Linked DNA regions of Homo sapiens: region 1 is linked to region 2. Evidence: fine-mapped expression QTL. A gene starts in region 2. The other region holds a variant in brackets. All regions are shown on one strand. Distances are from middle to middle.

What was found. PIP is the estimated chance that this variant, and not a neighbour inherited with it, causes the effect. A credible set is the group of variants that fine-mapping cannot tell apart.
Region 1: its variant is the best candidate, but not a certain one, in a credible set for the expression of BCO2 in whole blood (TOPMed, PIP 0.86).

What each region holds. Positions count from the first base shown.
Region 1 is chr11:112,097,355-112,100,279 of GRCh38, forward strand. No RefSeq gene overlaps it. Among named protein-coding and RNA genes, the nearest start is that of SDHD, 12 kb to the left of the region's middle. RefSeq lists a silencer at 2,417-2,625. The variant T/A (reference allele first, on the strand shown) is at 1,412.
Region 2 is chr11:112,174,255-112,177,179 of GRCh38, forward strand. It overlaps BCO2 (beta-carotene oxygenase 2), which reads left to right and starts at 1,258. Exons shown (of 12, transcript NM_031938.7): 1 at 1,258-1,435. The coding sequence starts at 1,348.

The DNA of each region.
Region 1 (2,925 bases), 77 kb before region 2:
TGTAGTTCTAGCTACTTGGGAGGCCGAGGTGGGAGAATTGTTTGAGCCCAGGAGTTTGAGGTTACAATGAGCTATGATCATACCACCGCACTCCAGCTTAGGTGACAGAGTGAAATCTTGTCTCTTTAAAAAAAAAAAAAATCCAAGGGCTAACAGCAATAGTAGTTTCTGACGGTAAGCAGGACATGATCAGAACTGTGCTTTAGAAATAATTTGGGTACCATTAGGTGGGTTAATAAGCTAGAGGTAGAAGGACATGTGAGGGGATAGAGACAGAATAAAGGGCCTGAACTTTGAGAGTAGCAGTGGAAGTAGGAGTCAATCTCAAAAGGTATTGTAGAAGTCAAAAACATTAATTCATTCATTTGATAGATACTAAGTACCTCATGTAATCAGCACTGTGCCAGGTACTGTGGATAACGATAAAATTTTACCTGCCTTTGAAGGGAATTCATAGTCTAATTGGGGCAACAGAAGAATGACTGCAATACGGTGTAGTAAGTGCAGTGATGGTGAAGCACGTCATGCGCTGTGATGTAACAAAGGGTGCAGTAAGGATTTGCCTGCAAGTTTCCTGGAAGAGAAGATTTGTAACCTGGGTTTTGAAAGATAAGGAGCTGACAGTGGCTGGGGAAGCTGGGATGAGGTGTAGGGTTGACTGGAGGATGGCAGATCAAGCAAAAGATGATATGTAGTTTGGTATGACCCAGCACAGGGAGGGACTGATTGTAGAGGACCTTATATGCCACGATAAGTAATTGAAACTTTATCTTTTTTTTTTTTTTTTTGAGACAGAGTCTGACTCTGTGGCCCAGGCTGGAATGTAGTGGCGCGATCTTGGCTCACTGCAACCTCTGCCTCCCATACTCAAGACATCCTCCCACCTCAGCCTCTTGAGTAGCTGGGACTACAGGCACATGCCACCATCCCTGGCTAATTTTTGTATTTTTTGTAGAGATGGGGTCTTGCTCTGTTGCCCAGGCTGGTCTCAAACTCCTGGCCTCAAGTGATTCACCCACCTCCGCCTCCCAAAGGGCTGGGATTTCAGGCGTGAGCCACTGTGCCTGGCCTGCGACTTTATCTTGACAGCAATATGGAGTTACTGAAGACTTAATTATGCAAACGGCATGATCCAATTTTTATTTTAAATAGGTTTTGCTGACAGCTATGTAAAGAATGGATTTGTGGGAGGTAAGCATGGAAACAGATTATTTTAGTGACCCAGAAAAGAAATAATGAATTGTGAAGGCAATTGTAGCTAGAATGAAGGAGAGAACAAATTTAAGAAATATTTAGAACTTAGAATCAATGAGAGTTATACTAAGATGTGAACGCTTGAGGGAGGAAGGAGCTTTGCTCAATTTTTTGTTGTAAATAGGTGGATGGGAGGTAGTGTCATTAAAGAAAAATG[T/A]TGAAGGAAAATTAGATATGGTACTGGAATCAGTAACTACTGAAGTTTTGGATTTGTGAGACGGCTAGGAAGAGATAGAATTTGTAGACTTCTATTTTTTGGCAATATGGCAGACTCAATTTTAGAAAGTATTTACTTTGATATGAAGCCTGTTAGAATGTTAAACAAGAACACCTTTAAAAATATTTCATTTATTTATTTGGGACGGAGTTTCACTCTTGTTGCCCAGGCTGGAGTGCAATGGCATGATCTCGGCTCACTGCAACCTCCGCTTCCTGGGTTCAAGCGGTTCTCCTGCCTCAACCTCCTGAGTAGCTGGGATTACAGGTGCCCACAACCACACCTGGCTAATTTTTGTATTTTTAGTAGAGATGGGGTTTCAGCTATGTTGGCCAGGCTGGTCTCAAAACTCCTGACCTCAGGTGATCCACCCACCTCGGCCTCCCAAAGTGCTGGGATTACAGACCACTGCACCCGGCCAAAACATATTATTTAGTTTGCAAAAAGAAATCTTCTGGAGCCAGACCAAAGTAAGTCTGCAGCTAGGGAGGTAAGCAAGTGCTTAGGGTATCAGTTGCCCCTAAGAGTATCTACTAAGCCCAGGTGGCCCAGAGTTCTAGTCTTCTTCTTCTTATTATTATTATTATATATATATTTTTGAGACAGAGTCTCGCTCTGTCACCCAGGCTGGAGTGCAGTGGTGCGATCTTGGCTCACTGCAAGCTCCGCCTGCCAGGTTCACACCATTCTCCCACCTCAGCCTCTGGAGTAGCTGGGACTACAGGCGCCTGCCACCATGCCCGGCTAATTTTGTTTTCATATTTTTAGTAGAGACGGGGTTTCACCGTGTCAGCCAGGATGGTCTTGATCTCCTGACCTCATGATCCGCCTGCCTCGGCCTCCCAAAGTGCTAGGATTACAGGCATGAGCCACCACGCCTAGCCATTATTATATTTTTTTGAGTCAGAATCACGCTCTGTTGTCCAGGTTGGAGTGCAGTGGCGTGATCAAACTCACTGCAGCCTTGATCTCCTGTGCTCAAGTGATCCTCCCACCTCAGCCTTCTGAAAGTAGCTGGGATTACAGACTTGTGCCACCATGCCTAGCTAATTTTTTTGATTTTTAGTAGAGATGAGGTCTCACTGTGTTGCCCAGGCTGGTCTCAAACTCCTGAGCTCAAGTAATCCACCTGCCTTTGCCTCCCAAAGTGCTTGCATTATATGCTTGCGCCACCATGTCTGGCCGGATTCTAGTTTTAAGAAGGTGGCACATAGGCCAGGAGAAAAGCTTAGGGCTCAAACCAGGGAGTTAGAATGAAGATTCCCCTAAACCAAGAACCATAAAGAGTTTTGCCCTCAGAGAAAGGGTGAATTAGAAAAAATGATATTTGCTCACACCTGTAATCCCAGCACTCTGGGAGGCCGAGGCGGGTGGATCATCTGAGGTTGGGAGTTCGAGACCATCCTGACCAACAGAGAGAAACCCTGTCTCTACTAAAAATACAAAAAAAAAAA
Region 2 (2,925 bases):
TGAAAGGCTGAGGCAGGCAGATCACTTGAGGTCAAGAGTTCGAGACCAGCCTGGCCAACGTGGCAAAACCCTGTCTCTAATAAAAATTAAAAAAAGTAGCTGGGTATGGTGGCGTACACCTGTAGTCCCAGCTACTCAGGAGGCTGAGATAGGAGAATCACTTGAACCCGGGACACAGAGGTTGCAGTGAACCGAGATTGTGCCACTCTACTCCAGCCTGGGTGACAGAGTGAGACTCTGTCTCAGAAAATAATAATAATTATTATTATCTCACAACTGGAGAAATGCTATTGCAGGAATACTATTGCCCTTTAATTTACACTTCTAATGTTACTCTTTACTATTTCAATAAAATATCACAAATTTATAAGTTATTTTTCATTGATTACTAATCAAAATATATACCGAACTATCTTCGTACTCTGCTATATGTATTAAGACACTCCCTTCTGACAATTTTAACCACTTCTTTCTTGAAATACAATTTTGCTAGGAAAACATGATATGTTAATGTTAAAAGCAACTCTGTGGCAGTGCTGTGGGAGTTACTAGAAGACCTTTTGGTAAGGGAGTCAGAGAGGTAGATTTTAAATTGGATTTTTGAAAAGGAAAGGGGATATTTCAGGCAGGGGAAAAGTTTCTTCAGTGGCACAGAAGAACAAACGTATCATGGTATGTTAGTCACTTTGCTGGGATGATAATTCATGAAGGGGAATAGTGTATGGTCTAAACTGGAGAGCAGGGACAATCTTGTTTCTTGGTATTCTTACTTTGTAGCACAGTATTTGCTACATTGGTGCTAAAAATGTTAATAAAGTCATATACATTTTAAGGGCATACTTTCACTCATGCTAGATTGTCAGAAAATGTTCTGTAAAATTAATGAATAGAAAAGAAAAGGAAGGATGAAGTGATTTAAAGGCAGAGAAAAAGGATGAAAGGTAAATTGTTGCCAGATTGTAGCGTCCTCTAGTGGCAGTCTAAATTCGGACTTTATTCTGTGTCGGAATCTTCCAGAAGAGGAGTGGCATAAAAAAATTGATGCTGTGCATCAGGATAAACGGACTTAACTGTAGTGTGAGAACAGGTTTGAAAAAGAAAAGTTTAGGGCGGGGGAGACCACTATTGGTGGTCTAATTTTAATATTTCAAACAGCTGCGTATTATAGCTAGGGTGTTTGGACGGTTGTCATGGAAATAAGCCCCGCCCCTTAAGCTGCGTCCTCTCTTTGACCTGTCAGTGAGGGAGGGACAGTCCAGGCAGTTCTGTGCGTGTTCACTGTTTAGTAGTACTCAAAACTGCCAGTGTGAGAGGATTTGGAAATCACTGGATCTGCTCAATACAAAAATGTTTTTTCGAGTCTTTCTCCATTTTATCAGGAGTCATTCTGCCACTGCAGTGGATTTCCTTCCTGTGATGGTGCACCGGCTCCCAGGTAGAGGGTTTGCCCCTTTCTCTTCCTCATCCTCCTCTTCTTGCCAGTCTGCGCTTAGAATTCTGTGCCTCTTTCCTGAAGGTTGCTGGGAGCTTCTGAAGCTTTGTGTCCTGTGTGGCTCAGATGAGATAGCAATTCCGCAGAGTCCTGGAAGTTAAAGAAGGCTGAGTTAGGATTGTTTCCTCATGGTCAGGGAAACAGCCTTCACATTTGTATATTTTATGCAATATTTAAGGCAGGATTCAGGGACTTGGTATTCTTTGGGATTTGCAATAAGAAGAATATTCAATATTTAGGCTTTTCTAAATTGAAAAATCACTGCCACACGTTCTAATGTAATTGTTTGGTTTCTCTATTTGCATTTTGCGGGGACTGCCTTAAAACTCATTTATGTTTTATAGCCTTCTATTATAGTTACCATTGTTACATGATTTTATGTATAGAAATTGGCTGATCTAGAGCTTTCAGAAATCATACTAATATGCACTATAAATTTTAAAATTACTTAATGTAGTAATTTAATGTTTGCAGTATGCAAGGGAATGTATTACGTACTGGAAGGAGAGAGGAGACAAACACCAGACCCTGTACTCAAGGAGTACTGGTAGTATCATTTATCATACAAGACAGATAAGATAAGGTCCATATGAGAGCTATAAACAGATGCTGTGAGTTCAGACTAAGGAGAATCAGTTCTTGCTGTAGGTAAGGGGAATGCTGTGTTTATAAAGCAAATGACATGGCAACTGGATCTTGAAGGATGAGTTAGGTGAGTAAATTTCATCTGAAGGAGTTGGGAAATATCCTAGATGAAGAAAATTGATTGGCGGGGGGGGGGGAATTAAACATTCTATTTTGACATGTTGAAAGTCACCTGCAAGAAGTAATTGATGAAATTAAGAGACTAGATGAGATTGCCAAGGGAGAGTGCTGAGATTAAAGATCCAAGGTAGGACCTTAGGAACATTCATGAAGTGGTAAGGGGGATAAGGAGCCCATAAAGGGAATTAACATTTGGAAAGCATCCACTATCTTTATATTTGATTATGACAACAGACATAAACAGGAAGTATTAACCTCCTTTTATTTCCATTTTATCATGGAAAAACCTGAGGCTCAGAGACATTAAGTAACTTGCCCAAGGTTGTCAGCTAATAAGTAATAAAACTAGCAGAATGCAGAGAGTAGTTATAGGGCAGCAGGAAAGTTAGAATAGGACAATGTCTCAGAAGCTACGAATAGAAAGGAGTTTAAGAAAGTGTTAATGTCAAATTCTATGGAAACTTTGAAGAGCATGTAGCAGATTACCAGTAGCATGCAATAGAGTATACAACATATAGACATGTAAATATTTTCTACAATGTAAAATGCTTTAAATTTGTGTATCTCTACTTAGACAAATGCCCAATCAGGCCATTCAATTTACTTAAAAAAGTAAGATGAGTAAAATTACATACCTGACCTTAGGGAATTTATTTTAATCTGAGAAT